Linked DNA regions of Homo sapiens. The protein of the gene in region 2 purifies or fractionates together with the protein of the main gene of each other region. This does not show direct contact. Each region holds a gene or a part of one and is shown on either strand. Other genes may lie near its edges.

What was found. The genes of interacting proteins can lie anywhere in the genome.
Region 1: the proteins of REEP3 (region 2) and RAB3GAP1 purify together in Homo sapiens (affinity purification with mass spectrometry; one large-scale study listed by BioGRID and IntAct). This does not show direct contact.
Region 3: the proteins of REEP3 (region 2) and CREB3L2 purify together in Homo sapiens (co-immunoprecipitation; one large-scale study listed by IntAct). This does not show direct contact.
Region 4: the proteins of REEP3 (region 2) and TAX1BP1 purify together in Homo sapiens (co-immunoprecipitation; one large-scale study listed by IntAct). This does not show direct contact.

The regions. Positions count from the first base shown.
Region 1 is NC_000002.12:135,058,792-135,062,291, forward strand, and holds part of RAB3GAP1 (rab3 GTPase-activating protein catalytic subunit), read left to right. Parts: intron 1-3,500. UniProt on the Homo sapiens protein: Catalytic subunit of the Rab3 GTPase-activating (Rab3GAP) complex composed of RAB3GAP1 and RAB3GAP2, which has GTPase-activating protein (GAP) activity towards various Rab3 subfamily members (RAB3A, RAB3B, RAB3C and RAB3D), RAB5A and RAB43, and guanine nucleotide exchange factor (GEF) activity towards RAB18.
Region 2 is NC_000010.11:63,524,401-63,527,900, reverse strand, and holds part of REEP3 (receptor expression-enhancing protein 3), read right to left. Parts: intron 1-3,500. UniProt on the Homo sapiens protein: Microtubule-binding protein required to ensure proper cell division and nuclear envelope reassembly by sequestering the endoplasmic reticulum away from chromosomes during mitosis.
Region 3 is NC_000007.14:137,880,087-137,883,586, reverse strand, and holds part of CREB3L2 (cyclic AMP-responsive element-binding protein 3-like protein 2), read left to right. Parts: intron 1-958; coding exon 959-1,175; intron 1,176-3,035; coding exon 3,036-3,111; 3' UTR 3,112-3,500. UniProt on the Homo sapiens protein: Transcription factor involved in unfolded protein response (UPR).
Region 4 is NC_000007.14:27,788,662-27,792,161, reverse strand, and holds part of TAX1BP1 (tax1-binding protein 1), read right to left. Parts: intron 157-3,500; coding exon 1-156.

The DNA.
Region 1 (3,500 bases), on a different chromosome or scaffold from region 2:
GATGCTTAGTTTGTTAGATAAATTCTTTTGAAATAAAATTTATGGTTGGTTTTATTACAACTCAATATTACTAACTCAGTGATAACTTATTAACTCAGTAATTATTAATTCAATAGTAATTTAATTATAATTTACCCTGTGTTAGGAACTTTGAGTTCTCAATATTTGCTAGGGGTTTTCAGCTTTGTGATGGTGATACTATCAAAAAAGAGACTGTCAAAATGCATTAGGAAGCCAGGCAACATGGTGAGACCCTGTCTCTTAAGGAAAAAAAATCTCCTTATTTGTATCAATATGAACAGAAAAAGTAAGACCACATATAAAAAATACATCATTCAAAGACTCTTGGCAATATATACATTGATTTACTACACTACATGTGTGAATAAAGAAAATGTGACGCTTTCAAACACGGGTCATTCTACTCCACTTGAAACAAATACATAACAATTGATATAGATGCCAATAAGATTAGAGGCAAAATAAGCTGGATATAGCTAGAATAGGAAATGATTTACACTACTAAGAAGAGAGCTAAACCGGGTACTTATGAGCTCTGATATTCTTTCATTCTTTGATTTACATGTATTTACTGAGTACCTGCTATGTGCCTGATGTGAAGAAATTGTGAACAAGATAAGATCAGTGTTGCCATTGAACATAAATTCTAGTGAGGGTGATCAGTAAAGAAACATTAAAATTTTATTTTATTATTATTTTTTAAATTGATATATGATAGATGTACATATTTTGGGGTACATGTGATAATTTGATACATGCATATAATCAAATCAGGGTACTTGGGAACCCTTAAATATTTATCTTTATGCTAAGAACATGCAAGTTACTCTCTTTTAGCTATTTTGAAATGTACAGTCAATTAGTGTTAACTAAAGTCACTCTAAGGGTTAAAGTTTTAGATGCTAAATTCAGTTTTGGGATTTAAGTGGGTAGTTATTTAAAGTAGGTAGCATACTGCCAGGCATGTAGTAGAGGCTAATGAAGTCATAGCTCCAGTCTGTTTCTCCCTACTAGATAGTAGTACATAAATAAGATACAGAAAATATGGGCAGATTTCAAGGTGAGCTGTAACTATGATGAATATGAAGAAAGTGTAGAGGACAGGGATTGTTTGGTGTAGAAAACAAAGTTTAGAGACTTCCTTTGAAGATTTTAACTTATATGAAGGACAGTGATTATTAATTTTCTCCTCCACTGAGGGGGAATTAAGGGAAATTATTTATTAAAAACCTTTAATTATGGAAAATTTCAAACATATATGAAGTAAACAGAATAGTATAATGAACTCCCATGTACCCATCACTTAATGTCAACAATTAATACTTTGCCATTTCTTGTTTGAGTGGTACCTCTGTTTACTCCCCTACCTCCACTAGATTTTTTTAATAGTTTTTTTTTGGGTAAGATTTATATACATTGTAATGGACAAAACTTAACTGCTTGATTTTTTTTTTTTTTTTTTTTTGAGACCGAGTCTCGCTCTGTTGCCCAGGCTGAAGTGCAGTGACATGATCTCAGCTCACCGCAACCTCCACCTCCCGGGTTCAAGAGATTCTCCTGCCTCAGCCTCCCAAGTGGCTGCGACTACAGGCACCCGCCACCACACCTGGCTAATTTTTTGTATTTTTTAGTAGAGACGGGGTTTCACTGTGTTAGCCAGGATGGTCTCGATCTCCTGACCTTGTGATCTGCCCGCCTCGGCCTCCCAAAGTGCTGGGATTACAGGTGTGAGCCACCGCGCCTGGCCAACTGCTTGATTTTGACAAATGTTCACATGGGTATAACTTACACTCCTGTCAAGATAGAGGTCATCTCTGTTACCCCAGGAAGATCCTTAGTGACCCTTTCTAGTTAATTCCCATGCCCTCCAGTCATCTGCTATTATTATTATTGTTATTATTATTATTATTTGAGACAGAGTCTTGCTCTGTTGCCCAGGCTGGAGTGCATTGGTGTGATCTTGGCTCATTGCAACCTCTGCCTCCCGGGTTCAAGCAAGTCATATGCCTTAGCCTCCCAAGAAGCTGAGACGACAGGCATATGCCACCTTGCCTGGCTATTTTTGTGTTTCTAGTATTTTGTATTTTCACCACGTTGGCCAGGCTGGTCTCCAATTCCTGGCCTAAAGCAATCTGCTTGCCTGGGCCTCCCAAAGTGCTGGGATTACAAGTGTGAACCACTGGGCCCAGCCTTTTTTTTTTTTTTTTTTTAAATAAACATAAATTACTGTCACCTGCTTTAGAACTTTACATTTAGGTGACCATAAATGTCCTTGACATCCTTTACTCACGATAATGTTTTTGAGATTCATCTAGGTTGTTGTACATACCAGAATTTCATTTCTCTTTATTGCTGTGTAGTAAGTGATCTGTTTTATGAATATACATGGTTTCTTTCACTTGTCCACATACGTACTATTAGGAATAAAGCAGAACATTATTGTATGAGGCCTTTTGTGGGCATATGTTTTTATTTCTCTTGAGTAAATACCTAGGATTGGAATCACTGGGTAATAGGATAGGTGCAACTTTATAAGAAACAGCTAGAGCTTTTTGTACTGTTTTACCTGCCCACCATCAATACATGGGAGGTTGTGTTGCTATACATTCTCACCAACAATCAGTTGTTTGCAGTCATGTATATTTTAGTCATCTTAATGGGTATGTAGTTTGTGCTTTTAATTTATATTTCTCATTTTGGTTTTAGTCTGTATTTCTGTGATGATATTAATATTGACCACTTTGAATTTTCATGCATTTATTAGCCATTTGTTTATCTTCCTTTGTGAAATGTCTTTTCAAGTTCTTTATCCATTTTAAAAATTGGATTTTGTTTTTATTGAGTTGTAGGAGTTCTTTTAGTTTTTTTTTGGTATATATATATTCTGCTTTTAAGTCTTTTCTCAGTAGTTTTGCTAGGTTGTGAAGATGTTTTTAATGCATTTTTCTAGAGGGTTTACCAATTTATCATTTAACCTTTGTTAAGGTCTATGATTTATTTTGAGCTACTATATGGAGGGAAGTAGGGATCAAGTTTCTTCTTCCTTTTTTTTGTGTATGGATATCCTGTTGTTCTAGAACCTACTTTGGAAAACACTTTTTCCATTGAGTTGCTTTGTCACCTTTATTGAGTAGTTGACCTAAGTGGTCTACTTCTGGAGTCTGTATTCTGTTTCATTAGTCTATTTGACTATCCTTATGTCAATACCATATTGTCTTTTTCTTTTTTTTTTGAGACAGAGTCTCACTCTGTCACCCAGGCTGGAGTGCTTGATCTTGGCTCACTGCAGCCTCCTGCCACCATGTTGGCCAGGCTGGTCTTGAACTCTTGACCTCAGCTGATCCGCCCGCCTCGGCTTCCCAAAGTGCTGGGATTACGGGCATGAGGCACTGCGCCCGTCGTATATTGTCTTGATTACTGTAGTTTCAGGTTTCCTAACCTTGGCACTATTGACATTTTGGGCCACATTGTTGTGAGGC
Region 2 (3,500 bases):
AAGTGAGCAATTGTATCAAAAGCTGCTGATAAGTCAGATGAGGATCAAACAGTTTGGCCAAGTGGCGGTCACTATTGATCTGAGAAGGGCAATTTCAGTGGAGTGGAAGGAGAGAAAAGTCTAAACAAACGTATGGGTTCCAGAGTACCCTGAAGGAAAGAAAGTGAAGATGGTGTATAGACTATCCTTTTTTTAAAAAAATTATTTTTCTTTTTTTTTTGAGACAAGGTCTCACTCTGTTGCCCAGGCTGGAGTGCAGTGGCATGCTCATGGCTCACTGCAGCCTCAACATCCCAGGCTCAAGTGATTCTCCCACTTCAGCATCCACAGTAGCCGGGATTACAGGCATGTACCACCACGCCCAGCTAATTTTTTTGTTTTTTGTATTTTTTGTAGAGATGGGGTTTCACCAGGTTGCCTGGATTGGTCTGGAACTCCTGAGCTGAGGTAATCTATACGCATCAGCCTCCCAAAGTGTTGGGATTACAAGCAAGAGCCACTGTGCCCGGCTTGGACTATTCTTCTGAGGAATTTTTGCTCTAAAGAGACAGAGGGAAATGGGGTGATAAGATGAAAAGTATAGTAGATTAAAAGAGTTTTTTTTTTTAAGATGGGAGAAGTAATAGCATGTTGGTATGCTGTCGAGAAAGATCTAGTAGAGAAGAAAAAAGAGATGAAGCTGAAAAGAAGGGGGAAAGCTGCTGAAGTATGGTTTTTAAGGTGTATAATTTAGCCTTTGAAGACATCCATTATAGCACCCAATATAAATGAAGAGAATCAGAGAAAAATAATTGCGGGTTTTAAGAGTACTGCCAGACAATTAAACTAAGGTAAAACAAAAATGTATTATCATTGTAAAAAAGGGAAATATCGATATATAGAATTGAAAAGGAAGTCTCCAAATTAATCCACTTCTACATAGGAAAGTAGTACTTATCAAATATCTGTAGTATCTAATTTTACATTTAGAAATGATCAAGAAATCACAAAATAAAAAACAAAGAAGGCGAACTATATTAAAACTATAAACTCTCTATGCAACCAAGAATAAAATATCTAAAAGAAAACTGAAATTAGATTGAGAAACACATTTGCATGAAATATCACATAAGGTTAATTCCTTTATTATGTAAAAAGCTCAGACAAAACAAGTAAATTATCAAGTAACCAAGAGATAAATGGGCAAAGTATATACATACTGTATGCATAATATATATAATTAATAAAAATCTGGACAAGCATTCAACTGTGCTGATAAATAAAATACAAAAGAAAACAATGAGATATGTTATATTTATTGGTAAAGTATTAAAAAATTAAAACTTCCGATTCTGGCTACATTGTGATAAAGAAAGTACTCACACATTGCTGCTAGCATGTAAAATATTAATATTCTTTTGGAAAGCAATCTGGCAATTCATATCAATGATCATAAAAATATTCAGTGTTTGACTCAGAAATATTCCTCTTGTATTTTTATCCCAAAGAAGTATGTACTTCAAAAGAAGTATATATAATGTCCATTATAGCATTATAATTGCATTTCAGCATTACTTATAATAATGAAATATTAAAAATTATCTAAATGTAAAATTAAATACAAATAGATGAATGGCTAAGAAAATAATACTGGCCTGATCAAACAGAAGATACTAAATAGGATTTCAGAGCAACATAGAAGATGCTTATAAGATTTCAGAGCAACATAGAAGATGCTTACAATATAATAAAGACTAGTATAACATTTTTACTATACTCTAATTAAAATTATGTTACCTACACACAAAGTGATTCAAACAAAAAATGTATATTGAAGATACTTCAAACATTCAGCATGCTGGGATTTTAGGAGAGCATGTTTTTCCTTTTTCTGATAACTACTACTAGCATTTACTGAATGCTTACTATGTGCCAGATGCTGGACTATGGACATTACATATAGTAATGTATTTAATCCCATGGGGTAGGTTATGACGCATAAATGGCAGAGTTAATAGTTGAATTTGGCAATCTGGCTTTTATCTTGATCTTAATCACAATGCTAGATCATAAAAACAAATTAAGAAAAGTTAGGGAAAAAAATGGAATTTCCCTCAACTTATGAGAGTCATGTTTCAAAAGGTGAGGTGTGGATATCATATATGAATGGAACATCATTGGTAATCTCAAACTACTATCCCTTAAAAATTGGTAACTATTCATGCCTGTAATCCCAGCACTTTGGGAGGCTGAGGTGGGAGGATCACCTGAGGTCAGGAGTTCAAGTCCAGCCTGGCCAACGTGGTGAAACCCCGTCTCTACTAAAAATACAAAAATTAGCTGGGCATGGTAGCACATGTCTGTAATCCCAGCCACTTGGGAGGCTGAGGCAGGAGAACTGCTTGAACCCGGGAGGCGGAAATTGCAGTAAGCCAAGATTGTGCCACTGCACTCTAGCCTGTACACCAAGAGAAAAACTCCGTCTCAAAAAAAAAAAAAGTAACTAATCTGTCAATCTTGCCTGTGATGTTAAAGTAAGCTGAGATTGAACAGACTGTAAGTAATGGAAAAATACTTTCATATCATCACAGAATGCTAAGGCTGGACAAAAGAGCTTGGCGGTTATCAGGTCCCTTTGCCTCTTCTAAGAAATAGAACCAAGGTCTATAATCAGCAAGAGACTGCCTCAGGGTCATTCAGCTGGTTAAGGTAACCAAAGCCAGTTCTGAATTCCAAGTTTCTTGGTAACAATCCAGTGATATTTCTTCCTACACCATTTTACTCACTTCCCTCATAAAAAAGCTATCTATATATCTATTACGTTTTAAGTGCACACTCAATGCCAAGCACCACACTTCCACGTTTTAGTTAAACTAATTTAATCTTTACAACAGTCTTTTTTTTTTTTTTGAGACAGAGTCTTGCTCTGTTGCCCAGGCTGGAGTGCAGTGGCACGATCTCAGCTCACTGCAACCTTTGCCTCCAGGGTTCAAGTGATTCTAGTGCCTCAGCTTCCCTAGTAGCCAGGACTACAGGTGTGCGCCATCACGCCCGGCTAATTTTCTTTACAACGGTTTCATGTGGTATTTATTATAATGACTTAAAGGCAAGAAGACTGAAGCTCAGAAGGGTTTAGCATGCTGCCCAAGACCACGCAGCTGTAAACAGTGGTATCCAGGGCCAGGTGCGGTGGCTCATGGCTGTAATTCTAGCACTTAGCGAGGAAGGTGGGCGGATCACTTGAGGCTAGGAGTTCAAGGCCAGCCTGGCCAATATGGTGAAACCCTGTCTCTACTAAAAATACAAAAAAATTAGCCGGGTGTGGTGGCGTGCACCTATAGTCCCAGCTACTTGGGAGGTTGAGTCATGAGACATGAGAATTGCTTGAATTGGGAGGTGGAGGTTGCAGTGAGTTGAGATCACACCACCGCACTCCAGCGTGGGCGACAGAGAGAGACTCTGTCTCAAAAAAGAAAAAAAAAAGAGTGGTGTCCAGGGCTAATTTCTCTGGTGTTAAAGTG
Region 3 (3,500 bases), on a different chromosome or scaffold from region 2:
TATTGTTAATTTCTTACTGGGCCTAATTTCTAAATCAAACTTTATCATAAGTACATATGTATAGGAAAAGGCATATGAACCCTACATGCTATATGCCCATATATAAACCCTGTATGGTTTTTCCCATACATATATACCTTATACCATATATATAGGGTTCAGTTCTATCTTCGGTTTCAGCCGTCCACTGGGGGTCTTGAAATGTATTCCCCATGGATAAGGGAGGACTACTGTACTGGATTTGGGATAGGGAAAATTTTGCCATCTTGAAACGTCTGTGGTCTTCACCAGGCAGGTGTGTCTCTGCCAGGTATGACAGAAGTGCTAGCATTCCAATTAAATAATTTCAGTGGCCTGTTGAGAATTTTTCCCCCCAAGGAACTATCTCTCTAAATTTAATTGGAAGCATAGTTTCTATGTCATGGAAAATTGCTACAGAGCCATCTAGCTGTGTGACTGTCCTACAAAACAAAGGAGATTGTCTCTATCCTTTGATTTATGGCTTTGGCTTTGTGTCTCCTCTTCCCTTTCTAAATGAGATGCCCTGTACCTCATCCCCCTGCCAGACCTACTCACTGGGAATGCTGCTTCTTTTAGCTGGGTCTGGACATCTCCAAGTATTCCACTCCCATTCTCCATGAATCATTTTCCCTAGATGGTTATGGGTGGTAAGGGGGGAGTTTTATATTTTCAAAGCAGTGGGGGTGGTAGTTTGCCTTGTGTTTATTTGCTTTTCTATTGTTCTTCCAGCACTGTATAATTGGTATAATTTTTCAATGCACAAACTCCGAAGCTCTAAAGTCTTTATAGAAAGCCAAATTCTGTTGGCACCCATGGTTCTGGGCAACGAGAACACACACATTGTCATCTGCCACCAGCCCTGAGCACCTGGAGTGAGGGAATGTGTTGGACCCCTGTGGTCTTTTGCTAACACCTTATTATTCTGCTCTGTCCTCAGTGAGATCCAGAAACCTGCTGATCTACGAGGAACATTCTCCCCCAGAGGAGTCATCCAGCCCGGGCTCGGCTGGGGAGCTGGGGGGCTGGGATAGAGGTTCCTCCCTGCTCAGGGTGTCAGGGCTGGAGTCCAGGCCGGATGTGGATCTTCCCCATTTCATTATCTCGAATGAGACCAGCCTGGAGAAGTCAGTGCTTTTGGAGCTGCAGCAGCACCTGTGAGTCATAGAGACACAGAGCCAACTCCTCTAGTGCACTGATGGTGGGTTATGAGTCAGCAACCTGAGATGTGAGGTTGAGACTCTCCATAGGCCTGGTTCAGTCCCTCAGCTCTCTCAGGACCTATTTCCAGGACCTGGGACTGCAGAGAGTCTGTTGCTGGCCAACAGTTGCCCTGAGCAGAGATGAGGAAAAAAACCAGCGTGAGCTCCCCTATGTCTGCTGCATCAGCGGGGAGCTGGCGTGGTGGCACAAAGAAGTGCTTGAATCCCTTCCCCCACTGTCTCCATCCTCCCTTCCAAGCCACACGAGTGAATGCACAGCCCAGGTAACCACAGTGTGTTTGCTGTGCAAATCCAACTTTAAGACATGTTTCATGGCTTCAACTAGGGAGTAGATATATATTGTGCTATATGTCAATATATGTTTATGATTTATATGTAAATACACATGTGTTAATTAAAACTATACATATTATAGTTTTATACTTATAGATGTATGTTGAGGGGTACCATTTAAGAGGCACTGTGCACACATTTCCATATTGAGAACAACCTCTATTTGGCTCCAATTCTACATGAGTTGTTTCTCAGTTTCTGGGAAAAATCCCTTTGTAAACATAAAGGCTTATGCGACTGCAAGGTATTGTTGTTGTAATAGGGGAGGTCCCTGGGCCTGCATGCATGCTCCTGGTTACGTGTGACATGGTTGGTGATTTAGCTGAACTCTGCTCCTATGCCTCCCAGAAATGAGGCCGTTCCGATGTAAATGGGAAAGATTTTGTTTCAGATTCTTCAGCTTTCATCCCCTAATTCTGCAGGGGAAGGTTTATAATGAAGTACTTTTATGTGTGTACATTATACATACATATTTAACATTTACTAGCACTTACTATTTTAAGCACTTTACAGATGTGAGGCAGGTTGACTATCCCTTATCTGAAATGCCTGGGACCAGAAGTGTTATAGATTTCAGATTTTGGAATATTTGCATTATACTTAACAGTTAAGCATCCCTAATCCAAAAATGCAAAATGCTTCAGTGAGCATTTCCTTTGAGCGTCATGTCAATGCTCGGAAATTTCTAGATTTTGGAGCATTTTAGATTTTAGATTTTCGGATGAGGGCTACTGAAACAGTATCATACAAATCCTTTTAAGTATCCCATGTGGTAAGGCATCATTATTATTCCCGTCATAGAGAGACTTGCCAATGTAGCCACCGCTGGGATCTCTAGAAGACCCAGTGCCTTCTTACTTGGCTCTGGACACAGTTTCTCTTCTCTCAGCTAAGCTGTTCAAGGCCCACTTCAAATCCCATTTGTTCTGTGATGTCTCCTAGATAACAAAGCCTCCTAGCCCTCCTCTGAATGCCTAGAAATTTTCCAGGTTGTTACACAATTTAATAATGTATTTATTTTCTGTTATGGATTTATTATTATTTCAAATTAGCTCATTGTTAAAAATCTTTATCTGGATTATTAGCTCTTCTAGGCCAAGGATCAGCTCTTATCATTTTATTTTCTCCTTCCCTGAGTTTAGCATAGGGCTAAACATCCTAAGTAAATAGAATAATTTAATGCATCTCATAGCAGATCAATATCAAGCCACCATGATTATCCTTAGTAGGGTTGGGATGCCTTGGGTGTAGATAAAGGTAGGAATGTGGACTAGTGGAGAGGCTGGTAGCAGGGGACTTTGGAAACAGAGAATTGCTACTAGGAGAGAAAAGGACAAGAAACATGCCCAGGCCGTCTCACCAAGTTGCAACCCCTGAATGATTGCATCACGCTACAAAGCATGAGAATTGTAGCTAACAGCTGGTGACTAATACTTCGTTTTCCTTTTAATGCCTTCACAGGGTCAGCGCCAAACTGGAGGGGAATGAAACACTAAAAGTTGTAGAACTCGACAGAAGAGTGAACACCACTTTCTAAAGAGGCTGCCTGCACCCCCTCCCTTTCCCTTAACTCTACTTTTACATCCCCAAACCACCTTTGTCATCAGCTTTTCCTCTTTGCCACTGGATCTTCATGGAGACATGGGCAAGCATTAGTGGCTTCAGATTGGAGACCAGCCTGGGACTTCCCTGCAGTGAGAGAGCATCTCCCCCTGGTCCATGCCCCTCCTGTGCAGAAGGGAGCCTGCATCCCTCCCTTCCTTTCTCTTACTGCCATAGGAAATTATTTTAGGGGTTGGAGGTGGGACAAGCAGGCTTGTTTCCACCAATAGTGCCAAAAAGATATTGCCTAATGTGCACCTGTGAGGTGTAACCCCCCGCTTTGGAGACGAGATGGCTCTTGTTCAGTCAAGACCCCAGACTCTG
Region 4 (3,500 bases), on a different chromosome or scaffold from region 2:
GTTTTCCAAGCGTGCAGTATGCAGGTCTGCCATCGTTCTGTCTCGTACGTTGACAGCATCACTGAGTTCTTTAGCCAGAAAGACAACTTCTTGCCGAGTTGCCTGAACCTGTTCCTCTGCTTTACGAAGTTGCTCCTTTAAAAAACAAGTATCTTCCTGAAGAAAGCAGATAAATATATTTGTAATTCAACCACTCAAGTAAAAAACAGAAGCAGAAACAATTTTCGCACATATTTCAACAGGGCCAAAATTTTAGATATTGGTTTTTCTACTCATGACTTACAGAGTATATGCCTACAAAAAACTTAAGAAGTAACTTTGTTTTAGGTTCCCTCTATAACAACCCTATGTACTTGGTTTCACTGCTACTACTTTATACACAAGGAAGCTAAAGTACAGCGAGTCAGGCAACATACCCAGTGCTTAAGGACCTGCCCAAACTGAGGCTCAAACAAAAGATCCCATCCCCCAGAATCTCTTCAGCTAGAAATACTGACCCTCATTTTGTATGACTACCAGTAAAAATCATTCCGAAAGCTTCTTTGTAACACCAAAAATTTTGGTTAAAAGATGTTTCCTACTTTCTACCCCAAGAGACATCCAATATAATATAAATCTATTTCATATCATTATAAAAACACAGAACAGATTTAGGCCTTAGTTCTAAAAACAAAATATTGATATACAAATAGTAAAGACGAGGCATTGGGAAAATGAAAAGTAATTCATACTGCTTGACAAACCTAAAAGTATCTTTAAAAAGCTAAAATTGCCATGGTGAAATTATTTCCTTTAATATTAATGTTTAAACATTATAACATTTAAACATTATAAACACAATAAATTTAGTTTATTCAACTTCCTGTTTTTAATCTCTGTACTAAAAATAATGTAAAATCAGGAAAAAAATGCAACCCAATATTGGTTTCTAAACTGTTAGCCCCTTAGAAGGAAATGTAAATGATGATTTTATGCAGTGTTGGCATGGACAAAATCTTCGGAGGCATCACACTAATAGATCTACCTATAAAAAGATCGCCAACTTCTATATGTCAAAGGAGAAGAAAAAGAACTAGAAGAAAATTATATGTAATATATTCAAGAAAGGTATAATAATACTTGATATAAATAACTTTTCTAGTCAATAAGGAGAAACAAAACAAAAGTCAAAAGTCATGAACATACAAAATTTTCTAAAGAAATAAATGCGATTATGCAGTAAAAAAATTCAACTCACCAACAATCAAACAAATAAGTTAAAACAAATGCCATTCACCTTTCAAACTAACAAAGATCAAAAAAACAGTAACATTCCAATATTTGCATGGGTTTAGGGCAACTGGCACATTCACAAACAGGTGGGCTTATATAAACTGTAACTGGCATCTTTTCTCATCAGATATTTACAACATTCATCAGCACCTTAAAAATTCTCACAGCTTTTGATCTAGCAATTTTATTTCCATAAGTTTCCAAGAAAATTATCAAAGGGTATAGACATAGGTTTAGCTTTACAAGGATTCAATAAAATACTAAAATAATGAAAAATCATTAAGAACCTAAAATGTCTACCAACATGAGAATTTATGATAAACTATGATATACTACCTCTATATAATCAAAGTCTGTGCAGACATTACAAACAATACATATCTCATATACTCTTGGTGGGAATAAAAAAATCAATAGAACATTTTTTTGAAAGGTAATTTGAAAATAACTATCAAAATTTAAATACTCATTGACCCAGTAATTCCACTTGAAAGAACTTATTCTACGGATTATAAATGTGCCTACATATTGCTATAAGGATGTTTACTGCAGGATGCTTATAAAAGCTGAAGACTATAAACAATCAAAAACAATCAAAAAACATATACTACACAGTTGTTAAATGAAGAGAAGAAATACTAGGCAGTTGTTATGATGAATGAAAAAGATCCACATGTGTATCATAGTGCAAGATATCCATTTATAAATTTTTTTAAAAGGAAAAAATGTATAAATTCTAATTTGTGTTAAAATATAAATATACGTATATTCATAAATTCAATAATAACTTACTTATCTGAGAAGGGATGAGGATTACATTTTACTTTGTATCCTCATGTACTGTTTAAATTTTTTTATAACCATCACCTCAAACTACTTTCACAATCTTTTAAAAGCTTTAGCAACTAGTAGTCATTTTTCTCAGGTACTTCCATAACTACGCTTTTCCTCACAGAAGTCTTGCTTAAATAGGAAAAAGATGCTTAGAGAAATTTTTAGCATCTTATTAAATAACAAATAATCAAATACACTTCTCATGTTTGCACTGGCAATCTGTTACATTAAAAAGTAACAAGGATTAACCATTAATTCTAAATGTCATGCGCTTCTGACGTTTTAGGTATTACATTAACTATGTCTGAGTATTTTTAATAGCAAATTACTAAAAATAACATCATAAGAAATAATGAATCAATCAAGGTAAATCTATATAATGGAATATTATGTGGCCATTTTTTTCAAATGAGGAAGATCTCTACAAACTGATATGGAGTAACTAGCAACTTATTTTGTTCAGTGAGAAAAAGGTGCAAAATGGTATGTATAGTAGCGCTACCTTTTTTAAGAACGAAGAGGATAAAGAAGGATGTATGTACATGTACACATGCATATATAAGCTTATTTTTACAAAAAGAAACATAAGAATAAACTAGAAACTTATGAAAATGTTTATCTATGGGCATAGGTAAGAAAAGGGTTTAAAAAAACAAGGAAGAGATTGAGACCTCAGAGTAAAATTTTTCTATCATTTTGACTTCTGAACAAAGCAACTGTTTTACATATTCAAACAATAAAAATAAATCAAACAGAAGAATAAAAGCAAATATTAAAATTAAATACAAGCAAATGAAATTATATTACAAATTTATAACATAGGTATGCAAAAAAATAGTTCAAGTAACTTTTGAACATGGCGTTTCTATACATCCTTAGTGAAACATATTCTAAGAAAAAAGAGCTGTAAAAATACCTTAGCTTTATTTAGTACATTTATTGTTGGAAGTGGCATTGATGTAATAATTGTGAAAACACTGGTGTGTACGGCTGGATGGAAACACATGAGTAATAATGATGTTTGGGAAACAAGAGTTCTCACATTGCGAGAAGAGAGATATAAATATGGAATGGAGCAAAGGAAGGAAGAATCCTAAGGTACTAAATCTGAATTGGAGCTATCAATATAAATTAAAGATGCAAAATACCCACTGAATGTGCAAAGCAGCAGCCCCATAGTAGCAATAGGATCCAGTTCTTGGTTTCAAAATACCATTACCTACTAAAAAAAACAGAGTTTCTTGGAGAAATGGTAATATCAGGTCTGGGGGAACAACCTGAAGTTAGAACATACAGTTGTGCCATAAAGCAAGAAAGTATTCAAAGCATTATAGGAACATATCAGGACAAAAAAGCAGGCTTGAAAAGGTTCCCCTGGTTAAATTCAGAACAAT